4 separate regions of the Homo sapiens genome follow, and regions 2, 3 and 4 are each reported to be linked to region 1. Evidence: microRNA targets listed by miRTarBase, many of them from high-throughput screens and not tested one by one. Region 1 holds a microRNA gene; each other region holds the end of a gene's coding sequence.

The links. The annotated mature microRNA hsa-miR-603 reads CACACACUGCAAUUACUUUUGC and lies in region 1 at 2,871-2,892, shown strand. An mRNA with a match to its seed (bases 2 to 7 or 8) in the 3' UTR can be bound and repressed. Matches are read on the target gene's strand: a 7mer-m8 pairs with bases 2 to 8, a 7mer-A1 pairs with bases 2 to 7 and ends in A, and an 8mer does both.
Region 2: miRTarBase lists IGBP1 as a target of hsa-miR-603. Seed matches in the 3' UTR shown: 8mer at 2,012-2,019.
Region 3: the mRNA of LRP8 is a reported target of hsa-miR-603. Seed matches in the 3' UTR shown: 7mer-A1 at 2,677-2,683, 7mer-m8 at 4,053-4,059 and 7mer-A1 at 6,236-6,242.
Region 4: the mRNA of BMP10 is a reported target of hsa-miR-603. Seed matches in the 3' UTR shown: 7mer-A1 at 2,962-2,968.

The regions. Positions count from the first base shown.
Region 1 is chr10:24,272,875-24,281,153 of GRCh38, forward strand. MIR603 (microRNA 603) reads left to right here and starts at 2,811; the gene lies at 2,811-2,907. The region is part of intron 2 of KIAA1217; the gene reads left to right.
Region 2 is chrX:70,164,125-70,172,403 of GRCh38, forward strand. It overlaps IGBP1 (immunoglobulin binding protein 1), which reads left to right. Exons shown (of 7, transcript NM_001551.3): 7 at 1,709-2,200. The coding sequence ends at 1,857. Among named protein-coding and RNA genes, the nearest start is that of DGAT2L6, 9.2 kb to the right of the region's middle.
Region 3 is chr1:53,240,821-53,249,099 of GRCh38, reverse strand. It overlaps LRP8 (LDL receptor related protein 8), which reads left to right. Exons shown (of 19, transcript NM_004631.5): 19 at 2,044-6,736. The coding sequence ends at 2,082. MAGOH-DT (MAGOH divergent transcript) reads right to left here. Exons shown (of 3, transcript NR_038953.1): 2 at 7,155-7,253; 3 at 6,317-6,662. Among named protein-coding and RNA genes, the nearest start is that of MAGOH-DT, 6.4 kb to the right of the region's middle.
Region 4 is chr2:68,858,240-68,866,518 of GRCh38, reverse strand. It overlaps BMP10 (bone morphogenetic protein 10), which reads left to right. Exons shown (of 2, transcript NM_014482.3): 2 at 1-5,610. The coding sequence ends at 888. Among named protein-coding and RNA genes, the nearest start is that of BMP10, 9.0 kb to the left of the region's middle.

The sequences.
Region 1 (8,279 bases):
AAAGTCTTAATGAAAAGAGCAAACGTGGAATAGCATCCACCCCAGTTCTTTCTCTGGTCCTTGCACTCTGAGAATGAAGTCTTAGACAGCAGAATGTCAGGGGACTCTCATTGCGTAAAAGTCTGTGCCCTTCTGCGCCTTGGACAGTTATGGACAGAAGCCTTTAAGAAGAAGAAAATTAAAACTAGTTAATTTTTTAGTTAATTTTAGCAACACTACATATATGAGAGAGAGAAAAGATGGCATTTTCTGAATGAATGAGATGCCTCTGCATTTTGCCCAACTCATTGGAGACTCAGGATAGAGAAAAGGGAGAAATTATGTTTAGAGGCTGATAAATTTCCCTATGGTTACTATCAAGAGATCAGACTCTTATTAACATTTGCAAAGTGTGAGCAGAGAAGAGCATTTGAACAATAAGCATAGATTAAGTACTCCTCTTTCCTTCATTCCCTTTTCTCTAGTCATATTCTCAGACAGTCCAGGCTAAGTATTAATGATCTTCTTTGAAGTTAAACATACCCTTGCTACTTTCATTACATTATTATTTTTATGTTCTTCCTTTTGGAGTACTCAAGGTAAATGACATGGCAGAATCTGTCCCAGTCCAGTGAGGGTGTCACATAAGAGGCCCTTGGCTTACCTCTATGCATAACTGGCCCACGTCACATCTTTAATTAGAAGTCCAAGTTATTGGCTGGACGCCATGGCTCATGCCTGTAATCCAAGCACTTTGGGAGGCCAAGGTGGGTGGATCACCTGAGGTCAGGAGTTCGAGACCAGCCTGGCCAACATAGTGAAACCCTGTCTCTACTAAAAATGCAAATATCAGCCGGGTGTGGTGGCACATGCCTGTAATCACAGCTACTCGGGAGGCTTGAGGCTGGAGAATCGCCTGAGCACACGAGATGGAGGTTGCAGTGAGCCGAGATCGTGCCACTGTGTTCTAGCCTGGGCGACAGAACAAGACTCTGTCTCAAAAAAAAAAAAAAAGTCCAAGTTACTGTTGCAGGGATTGGGACATCTTGCCTTTCTCAAGTTGAGCAATATTCCCAAATATAAAAATGTAGGATCTTAGTCCAATCAGAGCAGATATTTGGTGTAGGGCATTTTCTAATGTAGTACCAATAAATTAGACGCATACCTCAACCAAAAAACAGCCCATATCCAGTAAGTAATAAGGCAATGATTTACATTTCACATATTACCAGAGTAATGACTAATAGCATACATGTATAAACTGAAAAGTGACTGATGCTTATTTTCAGATGGGTCCAAATTTATTGGATAATTATGGAGAATAATGTATGTTTTCTGAGAGTTGGTAGTAAGAAAATATTGCCATTGCTGGCCAGGCACAATGGCTCACACCTATAATCCCAGCATTTTGGGAGACTTGAGGTCAGGAGTTCATGACCAGCCACCTCAGCCTCCCAAGTAACTAGAACTACTGGTGCATGCCACCAAGTCCAGCTAATTTTTTTTTTTTTTTGAGACGGAATATTGCTCTGTCACCCAGATTGGCTGTGTTCTCCATTCTAAGTCCAGTGGTTAGAAATTGTCAAGTTCTCACATCTGCAAAAAAAGTAAAAAAGATGAACCTGCTACATCTAAATATACTTTGTTGTCTTCCTACAAGTCCTATTTTACATACTTATGGCATTTTTACTGCAGTTTGAAAATACAGTCAATTCTTGTTATTCACAGTATTGATGTTCTATAAACTTGCCCTAAATACTGCATTAGTGAGTCCTGAATTTATTAGTTAATACTGAATTTCCTAGGGGAAATACAGGGTTAGGTTCCTGTGAGTCTTTGGTTACCTTTTTATCAACCAATCAACAAAAATCCTTATTTTACCTGTGTTTTTGTTTGAAGACACCTTTTAAAATATATATTATTGATTCATTAGCATTGAACTAAGCTTATCTAATGCACTTATTTTTTGTGTAAGGTGTATCACAGCCTTCTTGAGCCTAGGAATGCCAAATAGTACTTCCACACCATACTTAAGGGCCATTTCATTTTATTTCTTATTTTTAAAATTTATTCTCTTTTCTTATTTAAAGAAAAAATTTGTAGATGCCGGGTCTCGCCCTCTTGACCAGGCTGGAGTGCAGTGACACAATCACAACTCACTGGAGCCTCAAACTCCTGGGCTCAAGTGATCTTCCCACCTCAGCCTCCCAAATATCTGGGACTACAGGCACACGCCACCATGCCCAGCTAATTTTTTAATTTTATTTTTTTGTAGAGGCAGGGTCTGGCTATGTTTTTGAGGTCTTAATTCCCCAATGAACATGACTAGTATATTCCAGGCTGGTCTTGAACTCCTGTCACAAAGCAATTCTCTTGCCTTAGCCTCCCAAAGTGCTGGGATTTCAGGCATGAGCCACTGCACCTGGCTTGGACCATTTTAAATAGTGAAGTCACTCACACACACATACACGCATGCAGGTGCACACACAGACACAAAAAGACACAAAAATGCGAAACTTGTGGCACTAAAAAGACTGTGGAAAGGGTGCTTCCTTACAGTATGAAAACTGAAACAAAAAAGCAGAGTGTTGTTTAGTTAGACGCCACCTGGGAACGTGCTTGTTGGGAAACTCCAGTTGTCCACTGTCCTGCCATGTCTATGATGACTGCAAACATTTGGGAGTATTAATTTGAGGGTCACAAACAGATTTTAGGTGATGGGCATATTTACAAATACAGAATCTGCTAGTAATGAGGACTGACTGTATAATGCTTTAGTAGTCTCAAGTATGTTTTTTTTCTCATTAAGCCTTTGCTTAAGATGCAGGCAAGATTGATGCTGTTGGTTTGGTGCAAAAGTAATTGCAGTGCTTCCCATTTAAAAGTAATGGCACACACTGCAATTACTTTTGCTCCAACTTAATACTTGGCTTTATTGACTTTTAGCATCAGTGCAGTTTGGTTAATGATAAAATTTTCCAAAGCAGTGTCTCATCTGCAGGAGCAAACTATAGCAAGGGCCCTGGCCATCAGTTCTCCCTTCTGGTCCTGATATTCCTTTTTAAACTGTCTTTCCATACCCCTCCCTCCAGTGGGCTTGGCGATGTTGCATTAAATAGCAAAGAGAAGGAAACTCCTCCCCAGTCCTCACTGACCATTTCTTTTTCCACTCAGTCCTGCTCAGAATGTAGAAGAGAAGTTGAATTTAATTCATAAATTCAGCAGCTTGAGGACTGTCAGTTTTGTCGTTATTTAGTGAAATAGTAATTGAATTGGGCTACAAGGTCATTGGAATCTGCTGTTTCATTTCATATCATTTTACGTGTTATTATTCTAATAAGAATACAAATGGAGTTTGATGCCATTTGCTGATCATCCATCTTATTGATGCCATTGAACAGAACGCAGAAACACAAAGGGATTTATAAGGCATTTCAGTTTTGATGTCCTTTGAAAAATGAAAGTCTTTTCAGAAATGCAAAAGACAAAATGACTTAGAATTCCATCTCGTTCTGCCCGGTTTGAGGGCATCCCTTCCTATTCCTTAGATAGCTGTTAATAAGAGTCCTGAGGAAAACTGGGTTTGAATTTAAAAACAAAAAATTTTTAAGAGACAGGGTCTCGCTTTGTCACCCAGGCTGGAGTGCAGTGGCACAATCATAGCCCCTGTAACCTTGAAGTCCTGGACTCAAGTGATGCTCCCACCTCAGCCTCCCTAGTAGCTGGAACTACTGGCACATGCCATCAAGTCCAGCTTTTTTTTTTTTTTTTTCTGAGATGGAATCTCACTTTGTCACCGAGGCCGTAGTGCAGTGGCGCGATCTCGGCTCACAGCAACCTCTGTCTCTCAAGTTCAAGTGATTGTCCTGCCTCAGCCTCCTGAGTAGCTGGGACTACAAGCATGTGCTACTACGCCCAGCTAATTTTTGTATTTTTAGTAGAGACAGGGTTTCACCATATTGGCCAGGCTGGTCTGGAACTCCTGACCTTGTGATCCGTCCGCCTCAGCCTCTCAAAGTGCTGGGATTACAGGCATGAGCCACCACACCCAGCCAAGTCCAGCTAATTAAAAAAAAAATAAAAATCGTAGAGATGGGGTCTCCCCGTGTTGCCCAAGCTGGTGTCAAATTCCTGACCTCAAGCAATCCTCCCACCTCGGCCTCCCAAAGCTCTATGATTATAGATGTGAGCTGCCATGCCTGGCCTTAAATTTTTCAAAAGCTTTTAAACCAATCTTAAAATGTTTTATCCTCTTAGAATCATGTCCCTAGTTTTATAGCTTGGAAATTCTTGCTCTTTTCAAATTGCTCTTTAACTCTGGCCTGATTGGAAGGTGGCAGCTTTTCAAATACAGGTCATGGCAGCGCTCAACCTGGATTCCTCAGTTGCAGAAGACTGCTTTTGCTAGACTGCTGAATTTACTTCCAACTTTTCAGATGTTTCTGAGGTTGACCCTGGTGTGGTTCCCACTCAAAGTGGAGCAAGCAGGTGGGTGGCAGGTCTCTTCTTAGCGGCTTCCTAGAGGGAAGCCTCGTGAGTGGGATGGGGGACAGGTTGCCCTGGGGGAGCCCAGGAATGGGGAGACAAGGCCACCTGCTATGCAGATGATATAGTTTGGCTGTGTACCCACCCACTTCTCATCTTGAATTGTAGTTCCCATAATCCCCACATGTTGTGGGAGGAACCTGGTGGGAGGTAATTGAATCATGGGGGCGGTTTTCCCCATGCTATTTTCATAATAGTGAGTGAGTTCTCATGAAAGCTGATGGTTTTATAAGGGGCTTTCCCTTTCACTGGGCACTCATTCTTCTCCTTGCTGCTGCCATGTGAAGAAGGACGTGTTTGCTTCCCCTTCAACCATGATTGTAAGTTTCCTGAGGCCTCCCCAGCCCTGCAGAACTGTGAGTCAATTAAACCTCTTTCCTTTATAAATTACCCAATCTCAGGTTTGTCCTAATCGCAGCATGAGAATGGCCTAATACAGTAGGTTTTCCTGAGTCCTCTCTCTGACTCACCCTCTGACGGGCAAAAGACAGTGGCAGCACTGCCAGCAATCAGCTGGGAACTTCTCCCCTGTGATAGAAAGCAGTGCTTGCTGGCTTCCCTTTGTGATGCTTTTGGACAGCAGCTCTATGGACCTATGCCTTTTGTCCTTTGAGGACGGACGCACAGTCTGTGCAGCTCGAGGACGCCGTCATGGGTGAGATGCTGTGGAGTGTGATGACGCCACCTCTTAGGCTGTGTGTGAAAGTAGCGAGGAGAGGCAGGGTCTGCATGAGCCACTTTGGAGCAGGCCAAAACACTGTGGAGAAGCACATTACAGCCACAGTGGCGGTGTAAAGGGTCAGACTGACCACTGGCTTCTGGAAAGTCTTCATTTCTGAAAGACTGTCAGGTAGAAGATGGATGAGAGTTACTCTGTGAGGCCGGAAACCTAGAACTCAGACCATTGTGTGCAGACCAGGGAGAGGCAGTGTTTGGAGTGAGATAAGCAGGAATTTTGAAATTACACAGACCCGGTTTTGAATTTACTCATGAGCTGTGTGGCTTAGAGAAAGCTGTTTAATCCCACTGACCTTCATCTGTGAAGTGTCCAAAAATAATACAGAGCTTGCAGAGTTGTGTGGATAAGGGATAATCTATCGAAAGCATGTGGCAAGTGGCAGACACAATGTGGGCACTAGGCAAGTGGCAAGTCCCTTGTATTGAGTCTTATTTGTCTATTCAGTGAATATTTGGATACCAACTCTGCTGTTCTGGGCATGATGTTAGCCACTGGGGAGACAGAAGGAATGAAAGAGATGAGTAACCTAATGTGTGCTGTCTAGTGGGGACTGCAAATAAAGTGGGTGTTACCACTAGCGTGCTCTACAGTGTTATGCTAGAGAGAAATTTACTTCCTTTGGCCACTCACTTCCTTGTTTTTAAATAAGAACTGAGTTAAAGTTGCTAACTGTGAAGACTGAGTAATTTGAATCTGCTGTTGGTGTACTCAGATTACTTTTTTTTTTTTTTTTCTTGGAGACAGAGTCTCACTCTGTTGCTCAGGCTGGAGTGCAGCGGCCCAATCTCAGCTCACTGCAACCTCTGCCTCCCAGGCTCAAGCGATTCTCATGCCTCAGCCTCCTGAGTAGCTGGGATTACAGTCACGGGCCACCACTAATTTTTGTATTTATAGTAGAGACAGGGTTTGCCAGGCTGGTCTTGAACTCCCAACCTCAGGTGATCCGCACATCTTGGCCTCCCAAAGTACTGGGATTGCAGGCATAAGCCACCACACCCAGCTCAGATTACTGTTTACTCAAATTAATGGGGATGATTGAGGATGAAACAGTGCAGGGATTCCCCATTGTTTTGTTTTCTTCTTTGCATTTCTAGTGTCTGTTTTTTTTTTTGTTGGTGGTGGTGGTGTTTTTGTTTGTTTGTTTTTTTTTTTAAAAAAAGATCTGCAGAGGCTATTGTGTCCTTTGCATAACCCAAGTCCAGTAGCATCCTTGACTTCAAAGTCTGTTGGCATTGATGGCATCTGACTCAGTCATAACTATCTTTAATACATCATTATAAAATCTACAATATTGCTCAAGTGAAGATATTATCATGTAACTGGGAGATATTACTAATTAATGAGTATGTGGAAAATTTTCCCTAGAAAATGAAGTGTTTGTGAAAGGGACTGAAGGATTTTTGCAGAAGAGTCTATGAGAAAGTTATTATAAACCAAAGGGTTATGAATTCTGCATATGAAACATAAATAGCTATTAAATATTTTATTTCAATCAAAAAGTGTAATGAAATTAGAGCTTCTCATTATGAATCTGGGATTTATATGGAAACTTATAAAACTAAAAGGTAATACATTCAAAATAGAAGCACAGATTTACCAATTAACTGGAGTTAAAACTTTTTACTTCTCTTTACAGTGACAGGAGAAAAATACATCCTAAATATGTTATTATGGTAAAAAAATAATATTGCTAGTGGACAGAAAAAATAGTCGTTAAGAGGGTACAAGTTCATCTGATAGTTGCAACTAACATTCTAAGGGGGTTCTCTAAGTTTAGTGTTTGATTTTCTTAAAAACCGATTTGAAAATTCATGGTGCATGGAACTCAGTGAAGGCTCCTCTGTTGAAGAAATAACTCTCTGAAATAAAATGAACATATAGGCCCTTTATCTTTTTTAATGGGATGGCGTGCTTAGGCCCATGAGGATCGGTTTGGTAGAGGTTGATGTTCTTCCTTTATCCTTAATCATTGATGCCTCTCTAGAAAAGAAATGCTCATGTCTTTTAGGTGGAACCATAGGATATTGGTGATTACGTATGTCAAAAACAGTCAAATATCTGCAGTTTCATGTCATTCATGCTAATGAATTCTAAATTGGATGAAGACCTTGACTCACCAGATTTGGCAAGGAATAGGGGTCCGTATTTTAAGGACAAAAGGCTAGAAGCCTGTTTGCAAAACTCTAACAAACATTTTTGCTTTTCTAAGATTTCTGAAATAATCTGGAGTACACACAGGTGAATAATGTAAGTGAAGGAAAGTGAAAGGGTGCTATAAAGTAAAATGAAAAGATGCTGAATTTCAGCACTAATTTGAATATACCTAGATTCTAGATTGAAAATGACCTTTTCCGCACAGGTAAATAAAATGTTTCCATAAAGGAATAAACCTGGCCGGGCGTGGTGACTCATGCCTGTAATCCCAGCACTTTGGGAGGCGGAGGCGGGTGGATTGCGAGGTCAGGAGATCGAGACCATCCTGGCTAACATGGTGAAACCCCATCTCTACTAAAAAACAAAAAATTAGCCAAGCATGGTCACAGGCGCCTGTAGTCCCAGCTACTCAGGAGGCTGAAGCAGGAGAATGCAGTGAACCTGGGAGGCGGAGCTTGCAGTGAGCAGAGATTGCGCCACTGCACTCCAGCCTGGGCAACAGAGCGAGACTCCGTCTCAAAAAAAAAAAAAAAAAGAATAAACCTAATTATACTTCTTCAACTTAAGATGGACATTTCTCTACCTAAGAATATAAAATTATCAAATACTCTAGAGAAAGTTGGGTTTATATTCAAATAGCACAATATCAACACATGTGAAGGTCAGTATTCCATAGATGGGGATGTTGATAGCTAATTTCAAATCAGTGTGTTTTGTTTATTAAAGCTAGACTGCTGATAGGCAATATTTGCTAGAAAATAATGTAATTTTTAAAACTTTGATGTGTATTTAAAATAAAGTTTTCATTTTAGAACAGTTTGAGATTTACAGAAAAATTGTGAAGATAGCACAGAGCTCCCAC
Region 2 (8,279 bases), not on the chromosome of region 1:
GCTACTCGGGAGACTGAGGCAGGAGAATTACTTGAACCCGGGAGGTGGAGGTTGCAGTGAGCCAAGATCGCACCACTGCTCTCCAGCCTGGGAGACAGAGCAAGACTGTCTCAACAACAACAACAAAAAAAGGTGATGATGCTAAGTGAAAGAAGTCAGCCGCAAAAGATCACAGATTACATGATTTTGATTTCATGTGTATGAAATGTCCAGAATAGGCACATCTATGGAGACAGAAAGTTGATTCATGGTTCTAGGAGCTGGGGGCAGGGAGGGAAGGAATGGGAATTAACTGTAAATGGGCACAAGGGATCTTTTGGGGTTATAGAATTTTTTAAATTGGATTGTGGTGATAGTTGCACAACTCTGTACTAAAAAATACATTGAGTAAAAAAATGAATGTACAAATGGACAATTACAGTGTCTAGTGGTATGCACTTGGGTGATAAAGCTGTGATGAACTCTAGGAAGTTATTACTATAAAAAGCAGTATAGAGGTTACTTTTGCAGGGGAGGAGAGTTGATTTGTATAATGTACACAGAGAGGCTTTTAGGGTGGATACAGGAGATCTGTTTCTTGACCTGAGTGGAGGCTATAAGGCCTCCTTACAAAAATTTGTTTTATATGTACTTGTGTGGTTTCCACCATGTTTTATTTTATAGTAAAGGGTTTAAAAGAAAAGAACGAGGCAAGGTGGCTCACGCCTGTAACCCCAGCACTTTGGGAGGGCCGAGACCAGCCTGGGCAACATAGGGGAAGACCTTGTCTCCACAAAAAATGTAAAAATTAGCCAAGTGTGGTGGTTCATGCCTGTGGTTCCAGCTACTCGGGAGGCTGAGGCAGGAGGATGACTTGAGCCCAGGAGTTCGAGGCTACAGTTAGCCATGATCACACCACTGTACTCCAGCCTAGGCAACAGAGAGAAACCCTATCTCAGAAAAAAAGACTCCTGAGCTGTTAGAAGAGATCAGATCCCCACACATTTCATTCATAGTAATGAGACTATTTCTCATGAGCAAAGTCAGAGTAGCCAGGAAAATGCTGCTTTACCTCACAAAGGAAAAAAAATGCAAAAGAGATGCAGCAGTTGGTTTAATTTCTTTTGGGTGTACACTGCATGATAAATGCCATTTGGACCTCAGAGCCTATTTCAAGCACTGCAAAATAATACGTAGGCATTCTTTTCTGGTAGGTCCAACTGCCCTGTGATTTTCAATTTTATGCACAAAAACTTATGTATGACTATAGTAAAGGAAATGGATGGAGGAGGAAACGTCAACTGCAATCCCACCCCCCTGGCAACTCACAAATCACAAATTCATAAATATTTTTTCTTTCCTGTTTTTGGATTGCAGGGGTTGTTTGATGGTGGTGGTAATGTTTTTGTTTAGGGGCTTGGGGGGGGTGGGTGTTGGCCATTTTTGCAAGAATTCTCTTCCAAAATAGAATTCATTCTGAGGGGCACCTTTTATGATTTTTGCCTTCTTGTGGAAACCACTTAGAGCATCCTTTCGTACTATTTTTTAACATGCGATATATTAGGTAATGCAAGTTCTCTCCCCGCTTCCGCCGGGCTCAGGGTAGGCAGCTGGCTGTATTCCTGTTCTCATTGCATGTGGTTGTGCTCAGAGTGGAACTGAGGCCCCTGACGTTACTTATTAACATTCCCTCAATTTCTCACCTCCCTTTCTAATTTTTCCACTTTAGAGGAATTCAGAAAAGCAGCTCAGCAACAGGAAGAACAAGAAGAAAAGGAGGAAGAGGATGATGAACAAACACTCCACAGAGCCCGGGAGTGGGATGACTGGAAGGACACCCATCCTAGGGGCTATGGGAACCGACAGAACATGGGCTGATCTTCCCACAACACCACAGGACTGCAGGGTGCACAACTCCCCTGCCAAGGAAAACCATGCAGTCCTCCCCTCCCTGGTCTCCTGCTTCAGCTCTGTACAACGAGGGCAAAGATGCTAAATCTTGCTTTGCATTCAGTAAAGTGTCAAGTGATTAAGTGTGTATTTGTACCCTAGATGATATGAACCAGCAGTCTTGTTTTGGCATCATCCTCATCATGTTGTATTCCAGCTTCTTAAGTGGAAGGAAAAGAGTGCTGAGAAATGGCTCTGTATAATCTATGGCTATCCGAATTCTCTGAAAAAATAATAAAAGTCCCCTCTATTATATGAGCCTGTACAGAAATATGGCTATCAGCTGCTTTTTTTTTGCCGGGGGAGTGGGGACATTTAGCTGTGGGTCTCTGGGCTTATGGGGAGATGCCCTTTGATGTGGGCAGTGAATTGGTCCAGCATCAGATCTGCCCAGGCATTCTCCTTCCTACTGGGCATATGATATGAAGCCATATAAGTAGCACCCTGCACCATGAAGCAATCCAGCACTCTACAAGGGGAGATCATAAAAACCAGAGCTTTCCCTGGTACACAGCACTATTCTCAGAAACTATAGCTGTAAGGTGAATGGACCGCAAAGGGATGTAGTCTACTTCCCAGTCCTATCTACCTCGTCCTAGCTTGGCCAGAAGAAATGAGAGATAGAGGAGGCACTCTTAAAAGTCATCCTTGTGTATGTATCTGAGGCCAGAGCCTTTACTCTCATGCGTTTACCATATATCCCTTAGGGTGAAGAGTAGCCTCAGGCCATAGCCTTTTTTTTTTTTTTTTTTTTTTTTTTGAGACGAGTGTCATTCTGTTGCTGGAATGCAATGGCGTGATCTCAGCTTACTACAACTTCCACCTCCCTGGTTCAAGCAATTATCCTGCCTCAGCCTCACAAGTAGCTGGGATTACAGGCGCCCGTCACCACACCCAGCTAATTTTTGTATTTTTAGTAGAGACGGGGTTTTACCATGTTGGTCAGGCTGGTCTCGAACTCCTGACCTCGTGAGCCACCCACCTCGGCCTCGAAAGTGCTGGGATTACAGGCGTGAGTCACCGCACCCAGCCATCCTAACTCTTCAATTGGCCCTTCTTGCCTATGCTGTGAGATACTTGGCACAATCCAAACTAATGGCCTGGGTAAATGTGCTGTGGTGGTCGTTTGGCTGCTTAGTGAGGTGCCTGCAGTCACGCAGATAATGGGTGTGGAGGAGGGGGACAGTACAGATGACACTGCAGGGTACCTACTTTCTGGGGAACAGAGAAGACAGTGTCCTCAGCTCTTGCGTTGGCATCCTATAAAAGCAGCCATGTGTTGAAACAAATGATATGCACAGAAAGCATACTTCTGTGGCTTTGTTACACGGGTTTTCTTTCAAGAGGAAGATGACTCAGCCCTCCCAGCTTCTGCAGTCTAGCTTAGGAGAGGTGTTTGAAAAGGAGACTCAGTTCCCTCTTGTTTATAGGGTGGTTAGTGGAGGGCTGTCAGGTGATGAGGGGGAGGTTGTGTTTCGTGGGAGATGACAGAAGACTACCAATAATCTATTTGTATACTGCTTAATGAGGAGTCATCTCACCCTCACAACATAAGCTCCTGAAACTGGGAGAGCACAGATTAAATCCCCCAAGGATTTGGAAAGCAACATTTTCCGCTCTCTTCCAGTGGCTGCCAGCCTGCCTCTAGCAATGGCCTATTTCCTGTTTTTGAAACTCCACCCTGAGTTTATTCCCAAATGGGCCAGGTTGGAGTTACCTCTTGGTCCAAGTCCGTTGAAGATTGGGCCTTCCAGGAGGCCCAGCTCAGTTAAACAGCTTCACACATCCTGATATCTAACAGGCAAACCAGACAAGGTGGGTTTGAATTCTGGCTTTAAAAATTGCAGGCTGACAGAAAGACAAACTTCGCATGTTCTCGCTTATTTGTGGGAACTAACAAAACAATTGGACTCATGGAGATAGATAGAGTAGAAGATTTACCAGAGACTGGGAAGGGTACTGGGGTGGGGATGGGGATGGTTAATGGATACAAAAAAATATAATGAATAAGACCCACTATTTGACAGCACAACAGGGCGACTATAGTCAATAATAATTTAATCGTACATTTAAAAATAAAAGTGTATAATTTGTAACAAAGGAGAAATGTTTAAGGGGATAGATACCCCATTTTTCATGATGTGATTGTTATGCATTGCATGCCTATATCAAAACATCTCAGGTACCCCATAAATATATACACCTATGCACCCCCAAAACTAAAAAATAAGAAAATCAAAAATTGCAGGCTGTGTGACGTGACCTTGGGCAATAAGACTCTGAGCTGCCTTTTCTTCGGTGTATGTAGATAAGCTGTCTCCTGGGGCTGTGAGGATTAAATGAATAATGGCACCTATTATCTGTAAACTCAGGCAACTGAAGAGTAAGTGCTTTCTGTTAGCTTAGTGACTGCAGTCTGTCCACTGAGAAGGGAAAGGAAATGGACAGATATTGGGCCCCTGGTATGTGCCAGGCACTTTCCCACACTATTAATACAATGACCCTGCGAAACTTGATTTCTTCAAGTTCACACTAGTAAGATGTTATGCTGCTGTCATTTTCCATGTGCTTCCCAATTGCTTGTGCTTTTAGCTGTGTCTTAAAGCTGCTTCAAAGAGGAGCAGCTTTAGAAATCCAAACTAAAACAACCATGTCTACATCAGTGGAGCTCTAGAAATTCCTTCTTAGCTGACTCACCAAAGCAAAGGTTATGCCAGCTCCCCCGCCACTGCCCCCTCAGCTGGGGGATAAGAAGACGGAGGTGGTGAGCAAGCTCATCTTCCTCCATTTTCCTCCCCAGTTCTGTCTGCCTGAAGGCCGGAGAAACCAAAAAAGCACCACCTTCTCTACTCCCACCAGAGGCGAGTTCTTTCAGGGTCCTAGAGTGAGCTGGGTTTGCTGGATTCCCGGAAGCAAAGACTCTTAAAGTTCTCAATGATAGTACTGCTTCATAGTTTGCAAAACACTTTCACATATGCTGCTTATTTCATTCTCACAACCTGTCAAGCAAGATCTGATATCTTCACACAGCTAAGAAGTAGAGCACGCAAACAGATCAGCTTAGCCAAAGTATTTGCTCTCTGCGGCCCTCACGTGGAGGCCAATTAGATTTGGAAGAGGAGAATGCTAGGCACTATTTCCTTTAATGCCGTTACACACTGATTTGTCCTTTCCACTCTTGTTCCTCTCAACACCCCTGTGAGAAAGGGCAAGGGGAGAAATGAGCTGACTTCAAACCCAAGAAGTTGGAGTTAGAGTCCTGAGTCAAAGTCTCAATTCTGGGGGCTCTGCCACTCCCAAGCTGGGTGGCCCCAGGCAAAGTCTTCTGTAAAACCGCCTCTCTGTGTCACCCAAACCCCAGAAAGTCCTCCTCCGCTGACCCTGCGCCTGCAGTTTGCTCATTAGCACAACAGGAGCATAGCCACCTGTCTCTGTTGGGCACGCTACAGCAATAGGGTATTGTTGTCACTGTCTCCTTGCAAAACAGCTGTCCCCAAAACCTGTGCATCATTTCCTCACAGATTCCTTTTAACCCACTCATCAAAGGTGCAAGTCAACAGGGCACGGTTCGTTTCTGTCCATCACAAGGAGGCGTGGGTTCTAGTCCCAGCTCTGTCACTGTCTTAGCCCCTCTGAGATGGCAGCCAATATCTGCCCTACTTACCTCACAGGCCAGGGTGGGGAGCAAATGAAATCATATAGGCAAAAGCACTTTGAACAGTTATAAGACACGACACAAGAGTGACGAGTAAGAGCAGCAGGCTGTTGGTAAGCTGGAGGGACGGAGGAGGGGATGCTTTTTTTTTTTAATTTTGGTAATAGAGAAGGGGTCTCCCTGTGTTGCCCAGGCTGGTGTCAAACTCCTGGGTTCAAGCGATCCTCCTGCCTCAGTCTCTCAAGTAGCTGAGATTACAGGTGTGAACCACCATACCCTGCTGATTTTTGTATTTTTTGTAGAGATGGGGTTTCACCATGTTGCCCAGGCTGGTCTCGAACTCTTGGGCTCAAGTGATCCTCCTGCTTGGCCTCCCAAAGTGCTGGGATTACAGGCATGAGCCACCGTGCCCGGCCTTTTTTTTTTTTTTAAATTCAGCAGTTCACGACTTAAACCCTTGCTCCTCCGATGCTTTCTCAATCAGTCTTCTAGATCTCACCACCAGCCAAGAGGTTTGTGACATGCTTTTCTTCATGTGCTGAAATGACCAGCAAAAAAAAAGAACTATGCACAGTGAAAACTGGGAACCAGTTTTTACATATCTGCCTGCCAGGCCACCTTTGACAAATGTATGTGAAAAGATGATGGGCAAAGTCTTAGATTTCAGTGTCTTGTTCCAACTGGCAACAAATCCCTCAAAGAGAGTAGAAGTGAGCAATGTCTTAGGCTGGCCTAGTCCAGTGTGGTAGCAGGAATAAAAATTATGGCTACTGTGTATTAAGCACCTACTATATACTAGGAGCTTTACATACAGTATTTCTAATCCTCACAACACCCAAGGGAGATACTATTATAGTCTCAGTCTGTCGATGAGGAAATTGAGGTTTAGAGAAGAGATTTCCCAAAGATCACTAAGCTCTAAGTGGTTGAGCTGGGCCTGGATTCCAGGTTGGCCTGAGGACATATGAAGGTAGGAAATACATCCTGGTGGTACACTGCTCTGGGGATAACCCCTTCCCTTTCTCTGTCCAAGTTTTGAGCAAAAATTCCTGCTGGCCCCTTCAGGGACAGTCTGAGACCTGCTCACTAGGGGCAAACCCCACTCAGAAATCTACCCCTCCTGGGGCCCTCGCATCACTCAACCCGCAGTGGAACATTTCTGCCCCCAATGCCAAGCCCACCTACTTTCCCTTTCCCTGTCCAGCCTTACTTAGCTGGTCTTTGTTCAAGTAAATCTTTTATTTTTATTTTTATTTTTTTTAGAGACAGAATCTTGCTCTCTTTCTTAGGCTGGAGTGCAATGGTGCAATCACAGCTCACTGTAACCGCGAACTCTGCTCTCTTTAACCTGAATGCCATCAACTCATTTTTAAAAATAGAGACAGCCTTACTATGTTGCGCAGGCTGGAGTGCAGTGGCTATTCACAGGCACAATCTTTGCACACTGCAGCCTTGAACTCCTGGGCTCAAGCGATCCTCCTGCTTCAGCCTACTGGTAGCTAGGATAATAGATACATGTCCACACCCAGCTATTTTTTCTATGTTTTACTTTGTAGAGATGGGGTCTTGCTATGTTGCCTAGGCTTCAGGTAAACCTTTTAAATATTTTCTCCCAGATGCTCATTCAGGGGTTCCTACATGTTTTCTAAGCCAGTCACAGCATCTCTTCATCTACCAGGCCTTTCAGGACAACTAAGACCAGACCCAGGCCATGCATGCATGGGGTTTGGGAGACAGGGGCTGGGAGGAAGGGTTTCTGCCTGAACTCTGAGGCGCTTCAACACTCAGGAACAGATACAGCCTCTGCTACCCTGGTGCCCTTGGCCCTGGCTCAGAGGTGTTAAGAGATTTGCAGAAATAAACAGCTTTATTTCATCTGTCTTCCCCTTTCCTTGTCTAACTTCTCCATTCCACCTCCGGCTTCCCTGTCCACAAATATACTGGCGGCTATCACTAGCCCTGGCTGTTTCACTGAGCTCCCAGACCTGTATCCTGCCATCTGCTATACAGCTACCCTTGATGAATAAACTGAACTCAAACTCCCCAGTCTTACAATGAACTCATCACATTCCCCACCCCTCTCTCTCCATCAGAGCTTCTTAATGTCCCCATCACCTACTTAGTGCTCATCCTCAGAAGCTCACCATTGTTTCTGGCTTTTCCTCCTGACAAAGCAAGCATTCAAATGTCTGCTGAATGAATTACTGAATGAATGAGTCCCATCATGAATCACACTTCATCAGGCAGATTCACAAGAATCCAGCCCCTTTCTTTTCATATTCAAACAACTTTACATAAAAGAAAACTTTGAATGCCTTCACCTTAAAGCAGCAATCATTTCTGTCTCAGGCTGATGGATCAGTTCCATCTATCACTGAAGAGACCAGTTTTTTTGGGGTTTTTTTTTTTTGTTTTTTTTTAATCAAGTGCATTCAATGTGGAGGTCTGCTTTATATTCTGCTTTTAAAACTTAGCATGTAATACTACAGTCTGCCTTATAATAATTTTAATAATGTTTAATGACTGCAGATTAGTCTATAATGTTGCTATATAATCGCTTACTTAGCCAGCCCCAGATTTTGAACATTTGGAATGATTCCAGGTTTTTACTGTTAGTTTCTTTATTCATTAACAAAGCAAATTACCTTATTTGCTTGTGTATGCAAAAAGAGGTCCCTAGAGGGGGAGGAGTATT
Region 3 (8,279 bases), not on the chromosome of region 1:
TGGCCTTGAGGATCCTTAACCTCGGCCAGTCCAAAAAAATAGTTGCTTGACCAGTTTTTGAAGATCAGAGGGAGCACAGTGGAAGAAGCACTGAACTTGGAATAAGAAAACTCCCAGTTCCATCCTTCCACTGCCCTGTGATCTCAGTCACTTCTTTCTGCTCACTGTTATTTGTAAAATGAGAATAACAACCCCCATTCTACCTGCCTCCTGAGTTTATAAAGTACAAGTGAGATAGCACGTGTGAGAGCACTTTGTGACTTACAAAGCACTCTGCACATGTAAAGTGACATTATTTCCAGAGAAAGAAATGACTCAGGGGGAGTTACTCCCGATGAGTGTTAAGGACCAAGTAATAAGCTTCTGCCAGTTGCAGAGAAATAAGGAAATCAACATTTAGTGAGCACCTACTGTGTGTCAGACACTGTTCCCAGTGTTTTACATATATTTTCTCATTTAATCTTCATAATAACCTTATCAAGCTGATATTATTCGCCCCATTTTGCAGATGAGGAAACTGAGACTCATAGAAATTGAATAACTTGCCTAAGGTCATAGCCAGGAAGTGGCAGAACCAGAATTCAAACTCCAGTCTGTATATACACAAAAGCCCATGCTCTTTCCTTTATATCGTGAGGTAAATAGCCTTGAAGCTCTGGAAATCAATATTCTCAACAACCTGTCTCTCCTCTGTCCATTTCTCGGATAACTGTACCATCACTACTGGGGCCTATCTTTGGCCTAGAGATCTGTCTTAGAGAGAGTGGGAGGGTAGCTAGACTAGAATAAGATAGTCTTAAATATCTACACTGGTGGAGGATGGCCATTGCATTCATAAAAAAACTACAGATAACCCAAAGATGACTTGAAAGGCAGTAGAGTTACTTTTTATCATATGTAGAATGTCCAGAGATGGGAGATACTAGTCTGATTCTATTTTATGTTGGTTACGTTGACCTAGGATATTCTGGGCCCTATGTGTTGTTAGGTACTATGTTAAACACTCTCTGTGCATTATCTCATTTGATTCCTCAACAACCCTGTGAGGTAGGTCCTGTTACTATTCCCATTTGATAGATGATAAAACTAAGTCTCAGAGAAGTAAAGTGGCTGGCCCAAATTCACATAACTATGAGGAAAAGTACTGAAGCTGGGGAGGGTCTTTCCAAAGGAGGGTATCTGGGAAATGGAAAAGAGGCAAACAAGATTACATCAGGACTAGCTGGGGAAAGTTAGATGTGTACCCTGGAGAAGAAAACACTCAGAATGAACGGAAGGGAATTCAAACACCATCTATAAATTTCAAGGGTTGTCCTATGTAGAACTGTCTCTGAGTCTGAGATGGAATCAGGGAATGTCAGAAGATATAAACAAACAAATTTCACATTAATATAGGAAAGAATTTAAATCTGTTGTCCACAATGGAATAGACTGGTTCAGGGGTTAGTGGGCTCACCTTCCCATGGTCAGCCATTTTTGGCAGACAGGAGTCTAGCATCTACCTAATGACTGGAAAGCAGGGGTGAGGGAGAGAGGGATGGAATTTAATTAACCTGCATTGCCTCCCAACTGTGTTTAATCTGTTGGGAAGGTGCAGTATATTACCTTTCTAAATGTGATTAGCATGCTAGAGACAAGTAACCCCATAGCCTGAAATTTAACATTTGCCAAAGCTAACCCACTGAAATTGACCAAACCTAAAATCCTATAAGGGAGGATTAAGAAAATTTAGATCTGTGCAACTCTTCTTTACAAAGATACAAAACAGAATGATGAAAAAATCTACAGCTTTGGATTCATACAGACCTGGGATCAAATTTTAGTTCAGCCACTTGCTATGTGATCCAGAACAAACCCTACTTAAGCTCATTGAGTTTTGTTTCTCATCTGTAAAATAAATAGGATAAATCCTGTCTCTTAGGATAGTTTGAACATTATGTGAGCTAATACCTGTTAAAGTAACGTAAGTCTGTGATTTGTCAATACTAAATAAATAGTAACTCTTATGGATCTAATGATGAATTCTTTGGTTTGTCTCCCCAGCGAGTGGCATTAAGCCTTGAAGATGATGGACTACCCTGAGGATGGGATCACCCCCTTCGTGCCTCATGGAATTCAGTCCCATGCACTACACTCTGGATGGTGTATGACTGGATGAATGGGTTTCTATATATGGGTCTGTGTGAGTGTATGTGTGTGTGTGATTTTTTTTTTAAATTTATGTTGCGGAAAGGTAACCACAAAGTTATGATGAACTGCAAACATCCAAAGGATGTGAGAGTTTTTCTATGTATAATGTTTTATACACTTTTTAACTGGTTGCACTACCCATGAGGAATTCGTGGAATGGCTACTGCTGACTAACATGATGCACATAACCAAATGGGGGCCAATGGCACAGTACCTTACTCATCATTTAAAAACTATATTTACAGAAGATGTTTGGTTGCTGGGGGGGCTTTTTTAGGTTTTGGGGCATTTGTTTTTTGTAAATAAGATGATTATGCTTTGTGGCTATCCATCAACATAAGTAAAAAAAAAAAAAAAACACTTCAACTCCCTCCCCCATTTAGATTATTTATTAACATATTTTAAAAATCAGATGAGTTCTATAAATAATTTAGAGAAGTGAGAGTATTTATTTTTGGCATGTTTGGCCCACCACACAGACTCTGTGTGTGTATGTGTGTGTTTATATGTGTATGTGTGTGACAGAAAAATCTGTAGAGAAGAGGCACATCTATGGCTACTGTTCAAATACATAAAGATAAATTTATTTTCACACAGTCCACAAGGGGTATATCTTGTAGTTTTCAGAAAAGCCTTTGGAAATCTGGATCAGAAAATAGATACCATGGTTTGTGCAATTATGTAGTAAAAAAGGCAAATCTTTTCACCTCTGGCTATTCCTGAGACCCCAGGAAGTCAGGAAAAGCCTTTCAGCTCACCCATGGCTGCTGTGACTCCTACCAGGGCTTTCTTGGCTTTGGCGAAGGTCAGTGTACAGACATTCCATGGTACCAGAGTGCTCAGAAACTCAAGATAGGATATGCCTCACCCTCAGCTACTCCTTGTTTTAAAGTTCAGCTCTTTGAGTAACTTCTTCAATTTCTTTCAGGACACTTGGGTTGAATTCAGTAAGTTTCCTCTGAAGCACCCTGAAGGGTGCCATCCTTACAGAGCTAAGTGGAGACGTTTCCAGATCAGCCCAAGTTTACTATAGAGACTGGCCCAGGCACTGAATGTCTAGGACATGCTGTGGATGAAGATAAAGATGGTGGAATAGGTTTTATCACATCTCTTATTTCTCTTTTCCCCTTACTCTCTACCATTTCCTTTATGTGGGGAAACATTTTAAGGTAATAAATAGGTTACTTACCATCATATGTTCATATAGATGAAACTAATTTTTGGCTTAAGTCAGAACAACTGGCCAAAATTGAAGTCATATTTGAGGGGGGAAATGGCATACGCAATATTATATTATATTGGATATTTATGTTCACACAGGAATTTGGTTTACTGCTTTGTAAATAAAAGGAAAAACTCCGGGTATATGTATAGATGTTCTTCATTATAGACATCTTCTTTGCTTTTCTTGGCCTTGGGGGAGGAAGGGAGAAGTGCTCTTTTCTACTTGTGGGGTCTCCCATTGGAAACATAATCCTATAGTCCCAGAAGGATTCAGTCCCCAGTGGCTTTCCCATCCAAAGAGAAAGAGTTTGAGTTTCTTAACTCTGCTGTTCTGCCACTTACTCCCACTAGACAACCAGGGACAAGGTGCAACATGGAAGTGTTTGACTTAAGTAGGAGCAGAGGAGCTGCATCTAATCTCATCATACCTGGAACTTGACACACTTAAGCAAATGCCTTCCCATCCCTACCTGCCAGATGCCCCCAACTCAATGAAGTTGGATGTCTCACCAGCTTGATACCCTTTGAATTTTCAGTCAGACATTCTGGAGTTCTAGCATCCTGTACCTAGGACCTTCCTCTGTGTCACTCTTGGCCTCCTAAACTCTAAGAAAATAACTATATTCTGGAGCTTGGGCAGTGTGTTTTGCATAATCCAGCAATCTCCTCATGACATGCATGTGTTGATAGTCCTGAAACATTCATTGAGAGGGTAAATGCAGTTGACCTAGAATGACCAATACCAAACAGAATTTTAAGAACAGGTGGCCAACTCCTATGGAGCTTACTCACATATTACTATTCTTTTAAGAACGGAAAGTAAAATTATTTTTGACTGAAGAAAAATGATGACAGTGAAAAACATGGAAATGTACTCAAAACAAGTGACTTTTTCTGTAACCTTCCAAAGAAACTGAATTTTCCAAGGAATTAAATGATAACAGTGGCTAAGGCATAGTTTCTAAACTTTCAGTAAGATCCTGGCATTCACAGAAAAAAATGATGAATGGGGTCTGGACATACAGCCTGAGATCTCAAAATGACAATGAAATTCACAACTTTTTCTCAGAGACATTCATGTTTCCTGCATATGCTACAACTGCAGTTTGAAAGAGGCAGCAATGGGAGCAACCCTTTACAAGAAACAAATTGTGATATATTCATGTGTTGGACGGCAGTAAATAAGATGAAACCTGAGGAGTCAGATCCACCTTCCCCCATTCATAGAGGCTTTTCAGCCTCATTTTGAGGTACAGTTACATATCTTTTGCCTTTTGCCCCCGTGCATAGCTATCTACAGCCAATCACAGATCACAGAGTCACTGGACTATAGAGCTGGAAGGAAGCTCAGAGACAATGCCAAGGGGGCAGAAAATTTATCAGAAGCCAGTCCCAGTGCGTTTCCTCCATTTCCTTCTGCAGGAAGACTATTTTGGGCTGCCTGAACATTGTATCAAACCTGCTACCTATACTATGGTCTACCTTTCCTCCAGTGGAATTACAAAGGCACTAACTGAAATGCCTTCTAGAAACAGAGAAAACGAAACTGTACTTATTTACTCTTGATACACAGATTATTTATAAAACAGATTGAAGTAACCTGTTAACTGGCAAAAAGAGAATGAGATCGGATTTAAATGTATGGCAGTAAGTCCTATTGATCCCTCCAGTTATCTCAGTATGACTGCAGTATATTCATTCACTAAAACCACTCACTAGATACCAACTACACACCTGGCACTGCAGATGTAAAGGTCAGTCACACATGTTCTGACTTTACAGAGTTCACAGTAGCAGTGGAGGATGATATATGTGGAAACAAAAAAGGCATTGATTCTATTCAGAGCACTGTTAGGGCTCAAAGGAGAGAGGGGTCTTTCCACCTAAGAAATGAGGAATAGGGTCATCATAGAAGTGACCTTAAGTCTTAAAAATTAAGAAGGGGATTCCAAGCTGCTTCAGACAGAGACACATCGAGCTAAAACACAGAGGTATGAAAGAGCACAGGGACTTTAGGAATTGCACAGTTCATTCTAACAGGAACAAAAGGCTCAAGGGGGGCAAGAAATGAGGCTGTATGGAAAGAGATTCAATGTAAGCACTTTATAAAATAGATTAATTTCTGATTCAATGAAGCATTTCTTGATCATTGTGTACAAGGCACTACATGCATCATGGAAAATTCATTAGGATGCATTGCCAGCACTTTGCAGAACTGATATTATTCAGCCTCAAGCTTTCCAGTGGCCAAAGGGAAATGCTGACTGCTTTTCATATATTTGAGTCAAAGATTTTTTATATGGTCAATGAAGACTAATATAAGGGCAGTGGGATTTTCACAGATGCATGCCATGTTGTCGAGAGCCTCTTAGATTTTCTCAACTGTGAGAAAGAAAAACGAAAATGTTGAAGACGTTGAGTCTGGAGAGGGGATACTAATCACTGTCCAGTTGGGCACTGGTGGGAATGGGGAAATGGCACAGGAATGCAAGCCTCTCCACCCTACCCCCCGAACTCCAGCCATACACTCATCGTTTCACAAAATATAAATGAGTTAGCATTAAATGTTTCAGAGTAAATAATTCCTTTTCCCGAAATGCATGAAGATAGAGTAACAGACTTCTCACACTGTATTTTTAGGGTATGGAGAATTTAGAAGGTTAAAGAATTACTGCTTCAATTTTTCAGTTAAAAAAAAATCAGGAAGCTCTGTTCATTCAGGCTATGCACCATGTGCACAGTCAAGAATTAGCAGAAACCCTCTGCATTTACAAACACTTTGTGCTATAAAAAAGTAATTTTTAAAAAGCCACGTGTGTGTGTGTGTATATATATATATATATATATATTTAAAGCCAAGGTTTTGATACTTTTTTACAAAAACTACAAGAGAAAACAAATATACCTGTCCAAACCATATACTTTTAAAAGAGCATTTTTTTTTCCATACAAGCTGTTGTTAATTTGGGGGTAAAGTGCTGATTTGCAAACTTCATCAAATTGTTCCCAAGTGGATTCTCCTTGTTTGTCTCCCCCTACCAACCCCAAAGTTACCATATTTGATGTAAGAATCAGGCATGTTAGAATGTTGTGTCACACTAACTGATTCTGCTCTTTTTGTCTTGTCATTCAAGTTCCGTTAGCTTCTGTACGCGGTGCCCTTTGCAGTCTGGTGTCTCTTCCAGAGGCGAGGGGGCTGAGGATGGGGTGCTGCATCTCACTAGCTATACTGGCATCATCTTGGTAAACTGAAAACCAAATGTGGACATTTGTAAAATCAGTGCACTGTTTCTAGAGAGAGATTAAATTCATTTAAAAAAAATCTTTTAAGTTTTGTTTCATTGTAATACTTTAATGAGGGGGAGTGAACTATTACTGAGTCCCTAATGTGTACCAGTATTCTATATAAATTATCCCAATCTTTGTCAACAATTCGGTGAGATAAATACTATCAATACTATCCACTCCCATTTTATAGATGAGAAAATGGGCAAAGTAACTGCCCAAAGTCACAAGGTTATTTTTAGTGCCCCCAAAGAGCAATTGTACATGTAGCATTCTCTGCCTAAATTTTCCTTCTCTGCCTCCACATGACTAACTCCTATTTGTCCTTGAGTACTCCACTTAGGTAATGCCTCCTCCAGGAAGCCTTCCCTTTTCTCTAAGACTAGGTTAGATAACTCACCTCTGTACTTCGATAACAATTTTTGCCTACTTGCATCCCAATACTTCTGCCTTACCATTCATTCCCATGCCATTGGGGTTGCTTTTGCCAAGGTCATCCAGGACCTCCTCGATTATAAATCTGGTAAACATTTTCAGTCTTGCTCTTCCTTGACCTGGAAGCAGTAGTTAACACTGTTAGCCACTCTTTTCTTGGCATATTCTTATTTTGGCTTCCATGATAACATTTCATGTTTTTTCTCCTATCTCTCTGGCCACATCTTAGTATCCTTTGCCTACCCCTTAAATTATGGTATTCCATCTCAAATCCATCCACTTTTCTATCTCCATTACTTTTTTTTTTTTTTTTTTTTAAGAGACAGGGTCGTACTCTGTTACCCAGGCTGGAGTACAGTGGTAGGATCATAGCTCATTGCAACCTCCGCCTCCTGGGCTCAAGCAATTCTCCTGTCTCAGCCTCCCGAGTAGCTGGGGCTACAGGTGCACGCCACCCTGCCCAGCTAATAGATTACTTAAACTACTTATCTGAATGTCATACTTCTAGTCTTTTCATTTTCCAATCTAACCTACAAGACTGCAGCCAAAGTGTCTTTCTAAAGTACCATAGATGTATCACCACCACTTCTTTCCACTTTCCTGCTTAAAGCTCTTCAACTGCTTTGCTGGCACAAAAATCCAATATTCTTGGGTTTGCCCAAACTCTTTTAATATGGCTTATAAAACCCTTCATGATTTGGCTTCTGCCCTGTCTCCAGCTTCATCACTCACTACTCTATATTCTAATCACACAGTTCTGGGCCTCCGTCTGGAACATTTCCTTCAGGAACATTTCCCTAAGGACCCTGCACTGGATTAGGAGTCACCTCATGTGCTTCCATAGTCCTCTGTGCTTCCTTTATTGGTAATCTTATCCTTACATTGTAATTGCTTGTATGCTCCTTAACTGCCTCCTCTGCAAGCTCTGTGAACAACTGTCTTGCTCAACATTGTATCCTCTCTGCACATGACACTCAGTGGATGCTCAAATAAATGATGCTGAATGCAGGCACTGCAGACACACAGACCATGCTCTTTCAGTTACACCATGTCTCATATCCAGAAACCTGGATTACTTCACAGCCTGACTGGAGTTGTGTGTCCTTTAAATTTCTCAACACTTTTGTTATTTGCCACATCTGAAG
Region 4 (8,279 bases), not on the chromosome of region 1:
TTCAATGTGTCCATTCCTCACCATGAAGAGGTCATCATGGCTGAACTTAGGCTATACACACTGGTGCAAAGGGATCGTATGATATACGATGGAGTAGACCGGAAAATTACCATTTTTGAAGTGCTGGAGAGCAAAGGGGATAATGAGGGAGAAAGAAACATGCTGGTCTTGGTGTCTGGGGAGATATATGGAACCAACAGTGAGTGGGAGACTTTTGATGTCACAGATGCCATCAGACGTTGGCAAAAGTCAGGCTCATCCACCCACCAGCTGGAGGTCCACATTGAGAGCAAACACGATGAAGCTGAGGATGCCAGCAGTGGACGGCTAGAAATAGATACCAGTGCCCAGAATAAGCATAACCCTTTGCTCATCGTGTTTTCTGATGACCAAAGCAGTGACAAGGAGAGGAAGGAGGAACTGAATGAAATGATTTCCCATGAGCAACTTCCAGAGCTGGACAACTTGGGCCTGGATAGCTTTTCCAGTGGACCTGGGGAAGAGGCTTTGTTGCAGATGAGATCAAACATCATCTATGACTCCACTGCCCGAATCAGAAGGAACGCCAAAGGAAACTACTGTAAGAGGACCCCGCTCTACATCGACTTCAAGGAGATTGGGTGGGACTCCTGGATCATCGCTCCGCCTGGATACGAAGCCTATGAATGCCGTGGTGTTTGTAACTACCCCCTGGCAGAGCATCTCACACCCACAAAGCATGCAATTATCCAGGCCTTGGTCCACCTCAAGAATTCCCAGAAAGCTTCCAAAGCCTGCTGTGTGCCCACAAAGCTAGAGCCCATCTCCATCCTCTATTTAGACAAAGGCGTCGTCACCTACAAGTTTAAATACGAAGGCATGGCCGTCTCCGAATGTGGCTGTAGATAGAAGAAGAGTCCTATGGCTTATTTAATAACTGTAAATGTGTATATTTGGTGTTCCTATTTAATGAGATTATTTAATAAGGGTGTACAGTAATAGAGGCTTGCTGCCTTCAGGAAATGGACAGGTCAGTTTGTTGTAGGAAATGCATATTTTCCTCTCCAGTTAAGTCCCTTTCAATCTGTTTTCTCTTTGGACTTGCCATTTCCTGGCAATGCCACCTCCCTGTTGATTTGAAAACAACCCCTAGGCAAAATACAGTGTCAAAAGACACACACTTGTGTATGTATATTTGTACATACATGAACTTACAAAAATCTTTTGGTTCTATGCAGGCAGGTTATACTCATCTACATGCATGACTCACTCAAATGTATGCATATTAAAGGCCAATGGTATGTTCTCTGTTACCTCTTCTCTGAGTAGGATTTAAGTCAAGATAATTGACATCAGGGTTTTAATCATCCTAGGAAGTATTACCCTTCCTAAATACTCTGGAAATGTAAGTGTAGCTTTTGTCAGTTGAGTTTCTGTAGTTGCTCAGAGAGGAGGGGCCTGGCAAAGGATGCTTGAAGGGAAGGGTTAATTGATACAGAAACCAAATGGACTTAAGAGGTCTTAGAGGTACAACAGGAAAAAATGAACCCATGGAGGACCAATGTGCTCCAGAGGGCAACTCCTGGTCAAGGCAGGAAAACAGAAGAAACCAGCATGAAATCTGTTCCTGAGACAATAGGAAAGCAAGGCCATGAGTACTGGCCATTGCTGCTGCAGAGAGTAGAGGGGTTGGGAGGGTACTTGAAGGGGAGAAAGGGAGAAAGGGAAGAGGATATTGATGTTATCCTCAGAGGCTATCCTCAGATGTGTCTGTAAAACCAAAAGTGGTTCTGTTTAAAGAATTAAATCTTTTGGACAAAATAGAAGTATCAAAGACTAAGAGGAGGAAAATCAGAAGGGGTCTGTCTGTTGGAAGAAAGGATGTTAATATCTTTCTTCACCTGTTAACACTGTTCCCTTGTCTCAGCACCCCTGCTTTCCTCTGCTCCATCTTCTTCCTTCCCTCTTTCTTCTTGGCCCTAGTGCCTCTCACCTTCCTCCCATCCCTGTGTCCCTGCTCTTCCCTGGCCTTCATGATGCATGCTGTGAACTGGAAAGGGACACCTAAGTGCCTTTGCTCTCAGGGTGAAAGGAGTTAGTGTTCTAATTTCTAAATCTTCCCGTGATATTTAATTTGATTTTATTTTAATAATATCCTTTATCAAATGTTTTGTTCATGAAGAATACTTAGATATAAGAGAAAAGAAAACCAGAATAAGTAAGTATAAGAAAAAGAAAACCAGAGTCCAAATGAATGGATTTAAATAAACGAATTTATGAATAGACACACAAGCAAATGACTCAAAAGCCAAGCCTGAATTTTGAAATCATGATTGTTTCATGGTAGAAACCCAGTAACTTTCCCATCTTCTCATCTTACCATCTTCCCATTTTGCAACTGGCCAGGACTGAAAGTGGTGAGGAAGTGTTCTGCACAGGAAGGGTCCGGTGGGTTTTCCTGGCAGGTGGCAGCCTCCAGTCTTAACCCCTAACCATTTCCCTCTACCTGGCAAGCATATTCTGGGCTTTGTGCAGGAGGAACCAGAGCAGAGCAGAGCAGTTTCCAAACTGTTCCAGCATCTCCAGGCAGGGAACATGGATGGTTCCTGTTAGAACCAGGAATGTGGTTTCCAGTACGTCATCCCCCATTCACCCCTACTCATCTTAAGGAATGCTTCCTTAAGAAGTCTGACACTTTTTTCTTTTTTTTACCCTGGAAAACAATCAGTCCCCTTTTACAAATCTCTTAAGGTTATAAACTCAAACTGCACTAGACAATAGAGGCAAGGAAAACTATTTTGAAGAAGGCCCAATTTGAACCTCAGCTCGCTAGATCTGTTGTCTGCTGGGTGAATCCTGGGGAATTCATTGCTCATGGAAGAGTGGTGTTTTGACCGTCAGTGGGTATACAGTGATTGATGCTTTGAGAAAGCCATGCAACTCAGAATCACTATTTGTGGAACAGCCTCCATATAACATGATGTGTGTATGTGTGTGTGATGTATAGCTGGCTTTGAATAACCACGCTTAATACCCTCAGTGGAACGTGGTGCATCCTTCATACTCCATGGTACACAATGTATACTCACATACTCCAAGGTACTTCTTATCCTTTCTAAAGGACACTGTAATACATACACAGTAAAACCTCAGCTGACCAGGATAGTCCTGGTTAGATAAAAATTAAGCAAATTTTCTTTATGTCTAATACATATGACAGTGGTGTGCTGGTAAAACCCTTACAACCAGCAATCCAGGGGGAGAAAAAGCCCTGATTTGTGGATTTCAATGCTGCAAACGCTCCTACATGGTCTATCTTGAGCTGCCAAGGTGATGTCAACTGGCTTGCAAAACTTCTAAAACCTAAGTCAGCTCTTGGGAGCTGTGCACTGGTGCTGGCACACCGCTGACATTTAGTATCCCACTGACATTAGCACACCGCTGACATTAGCACCCTGATACTAGAATGTTAAGGATGTGCCAGCCCTGCTTTCCACTGTGTGCGCTGCTGGCTCCGGGCTTCTGGAGAAATCTTGTCTCGAGCACTTATAGTCACTCTTCTGTTAAAGAGATATGAAAATATAGGCTGTTGGCGATCAGGCTGCATAGCCCAGTTGTTTCTTTCTGCCCATCCAGATGTAAACCTGCATTTCTATGATTTTCTGCTTCCCTGTGGAAAGGGAGTGCAGAGAGCAACATATTGTTATTCAAATGTTGCTAGTTGTATTTTTTTGGCTTTTTGTCAGAAAGTGAAAAGACACAGCCCGTAGAGGAGTTCTCCCAGCTCCCACCGGAACCCCGGCAGCACACCGGTGTCACTTTCAACTCCTGCATTGACAGGAAGCCAGAATATTGTCAGATCCTTAAAAAGGTAGAATCTTACTAATGTTTCTCTGGTCATAGACCTTCTTCTGGGTCCCATGCCAGTTTTTTTCCCCCTTTTATTGCAGAATTATCATCACCGAAGTTGATATAGCTAAACAACTCTTGAGGAGAATTATAGCAGAGGGACTTGGGCAGCCCACAGCCAAAATATTCATGTAAGAGTTTCTAGGCTTCCCACTATTTATTGATTGATATATTTATTTTTGTAAAATATTGTAGAATACCAAATATTTTATTTTTATGTCTGTGATTCCCTTTTGGATAGAGAGTCTTCTGGGCTTCAGAGTATGGCTCACATATAATATATGGCCTGTATTTCCATCTCTCTCTTTTTGCATCAGAATATTCTATTGGTTTAAGGAATCTTGCCATAGCTTGCCATAATTTTGTATATTTGTGTCTTGCAGGCATGCTGTGCCTACAAGCATGCTTTGTAGTATATTTTCTGATTTGTAAATAGTACAGTTTTAACTGAAGTGTAGATGTTCCAGGAAATATTTAACCAATACATTGTCATGCAGTTTCATAAAGTGATGTTGTCAGTTTATCATGAGAAGCAAATATTGTCAGGCTGTGAGAGAATGTGATTGCTACTCAGTAAACGGAGATGCTATTTAAATGAATCTTTTCATCCCCCAAATCTGGTACTTCCCCTCTGAATTCACCTGTTGCCGTCACTGACCCAGAAATTCAGAGATGTGATTGGTCAAATTCATTTGTAATTGGACCAATTACTTTGTAAATGTCAAAAATGTTAGCTTAGTGATTTCCAAAAGAGTCAGCCCCAAAGTGCCGAATTCTTTCCTGATGTGTAAATTTTGGTCCGGGGAATTAATGACAAAAACCTTTTTTTTTTAAGAACTGTTACTAAATGTTTCAGTATTTGTTATGATTTATATTCTTCAAGTAAAAGATATTTTCATATAAGAGAATTTTATGTATTCTTCTTACTTGATTCATCAACAGATTATGAAGCCTAGCAGTGTTCTGGCAAAACCTTTTTAACTTGCCTAGAACACAGAAGGGATGTTGCCCTTTTTAAGGTTGTAGATCTTTTCAGAGTCACTGTGGGTCATTCTCAACCCTTTGCAGTTCTGCAAGCTCACATATGGTGCAAGAGGAAATGCTGGTATGACTCTGTGCATTTTCTTGCCCCCAAACAGGAACAGTTGATTTCCTACATTAAATGGAAGGTAGATGTGACTATGGAAGAGAAGTACACAGGGGTGTTTCTGCATGTGAAATATTTGTCATAAGTTAAAAACCCATCATGGAATAACTGTTTGTTGTGATCAGCATGTTTTTATCACACATGGGCACTGGTTTTGTGAGCACCTGGCTTGATAGTGGTGGGGCGGCCAATGTGCCAGCGCCCGCCTACTGAGCATTCATGGACATTGGAAATCAGCGAACACCACAGACACACCGAATCAGCTGATGCACGGTCATGTTCTGGGGTAAAACCTGTTCATTATCCATGTCCACATTTGTATAGTTATCACTAGACTAAAATGAAGATGGAAATAAATATTTTACCCTGTGTTCATGAACCAAATGTGTACCTTCAGAGTCTTTTTAAGTAAAATAAAAAAATTATTTTGGTGATAATTATTTGCAGCTTATTTTTCCTTGAGGTAAGGTATTTAATTTTGCACACTCCCCACTTTTTCATGTTTCTACTTGATAACATATCCCGATGGAATAAAACTAATTGCTATATTAATAAAGAATGGTCTGAAGAAACCATAAGTTGTTTTTGGCTTGTAACTGACCTCAGTAGGGAGTGGGATTTTGTAGCTCCATGGTTCTCCCACTTTATATGACTTTGTGTAATTCCCATTAATGCCACAGGCATTCACAGAAAATACAATTGGCTCCCTTTTGTCAGTAGCTGGGAAATATTTCTTCTTTGAATACCAAAGGAGGCAGTTTAGAGGTAACAGTCCTGGCCAACAGACAGACCTTGCTGCTTTTTCACGAAGGAAATTCATTCTTATGGCAGAATGTGGAATTTGAAGGGCATAGGGACAGCCCCAGGTAGAATAAAATCTCTTCCATCAGAAAATCATCCTGCATCACTTTTTTTGAGGGGACGCCTCCAGTGTCTCAGCTGGCAGGCTGAATCTGGCAAGTGTGTCGGAGGGAAGCACAGCCTTCATCCCTGGATGAGCACTGATAAGGTAAGACAGGGCTCTCCCATGGAGGAAAGGGAGCTGAGAGCCCAAGATGGGGCTGAGCCCAGGACTGGACTAAACAGACCTGAAAAGCCACTCGTGTAATTTGATTTTGAATTCTTTAGCAACCTATTCATTCTCTTCTTTAAATAAGTCCGTTTATAAAAGTCTGTCACAATGTGGGGTCTGGAACCCATCTCTGCAATTGGTTTGACCTGATCACAGCTATGCTGGACCAGCCGCCTTGTTCTGTGATTTCTTTCCTACTGATACAGCCTGGAATTGCACTAGGCAGACACACAGCTGCAAGTTATTTGGGGGGTAGTTTGTTTACAAAGTAAGATAAAAAATTATTTTCAAAGCTCACATTATACATTTATAATATGTTACAGGTTCTAATAGTATTCCTGATGTGAACTGAACTTTGTGGTATGGGGAAATCATGCCATGAGATCTCTGCATGTGACTCCAGTCACATGAATGAGAACCCACTTTTGTATAGAAGTGACTATTTGTAAATAAGGGGCCTATTTGGAGAAGGTGAGAGCTTGTTAACTTGGGTGGTTTAAATGGATTATGTGATTATCTCCAACTCACTCTCCTGAACTGTCAGTTTACAAGAAACAGCTCCTGCCCTCTCTTAACCTTCCTCAGACCATTCACACAGATCTAAAGTAGCTCATCTCATTCCAAGAAGAAAGCCCAGAAATGCATAGACAACGCAATACGTTTTTACTCTTAAATGTGATTCTGTGAATCTTATAAAAAATTTAGGCCACTCAGTTCAAATTAAGATTGATGGGAGGTGTGAAGTACCATTGTCAACTCAAGATTTGCTAGAAAGTTTTCACACACAGAACACTGAGCCCACTTCCTTGCACAGCATGGGAATGGTTTTAGAAAATTTAGTTCTAACTCCTTATTAGTATCTCACCTAAAATGCGTACCATAACCTTACTAATTATGAGGAAACATCAGATGAACCTATTTTAAGAAGATTCTGCACTCTTAAAAAGTCAATGAAAGGCAAAGAAAGATTGAGAAACCGTTATAGATTTAAAAAGACTAAAGAAGCATGACAACTAAGTGCAGTATGTGGTCCTGAATTGGATCCTAGACCCCTCAAAAACTGGCCAAAAGCACATTATCTTTTTGTTAAGTCCACTGCTGCCACAGCTGGTAGAGAGTCCAACTTCATCCATTGTATGCTCTCAAATGACATTCATTTGTAAAAATCTTCTGCATGGTTATTGCTCTTTTTCTGAAACTGTGAGAAGCTATACAGGAGTAACTAGGCTTTTGCTCAATGCAATGTCCAAGAAGCAGGCAGACAGCATTAAAAATGAAACCTTTCTTTGCTCAGTAGCCAAACTCAATGCAAGGAACAGAGCTGAAGGGAAATTGTTCATCACATGGCAAACCTGATGTTAATAAATGAGCTGCAATAAAACATTTTCCTGAAATAACCAAACTCAACATGCTTTTCAGGCAATAAGCCATCTGTTTCAAGTGTTTAGAAAACGGATCTCCAATCACTGGTAATTTAAACTTCCTTATACCCCAGTTCAATGTTTGATAAGGAAAGAGTGCTAACAGGATGGAAACTGAGTTACTATATTAAGAAACCCAGCAAGAACAAAAACCAGCCCCCTGCAGCTATTTTGTTTATGCTCCAGACCCATCTGTTTTAATTAACGTAATATTTACATGAGACCAGCTCCTGTTACGTCTTTTGCTGCAAATATCGCATGTTTTATTCTTTGTTGTTGTTGTTGTTCTTGCTTTTAAAAGAGATCCTGCAAAAGCACAGTTGCAGACTATGCCTGAGCGAGGTGTACACCGGGGAATTACACCTGCATTCTAGCTCCCCAGGTCCAGGCTCACCTGCTTTGTGCAGTTTGGGGTCAGATATCAGGTTGCCAGATGAAATACAGGATGTCCAATTAAATATGAATCTAAGATCAAACCATGAGTAGTTTGTTTAGTATAAGTCTGTCTCAAATGTTGTACAGAACATACTTATACTAAATAATGTTGGTTGACTACCTGAAATTCAAATTTGGTTGGATGTTTTTATCTGCTAAATCTGGCAGCTTAAGTCAGGTATTGCTCAGAAGGTTACATGAGTGGAAAGATCCAGAGAAAGATGAAGTCGTTTGCCTTTCCATGCCTAGAAGGGCTATTCAGAAGATGACTAATCACAAAGCATTAATTTGTTTACACTAAACAAATTATTCTAGT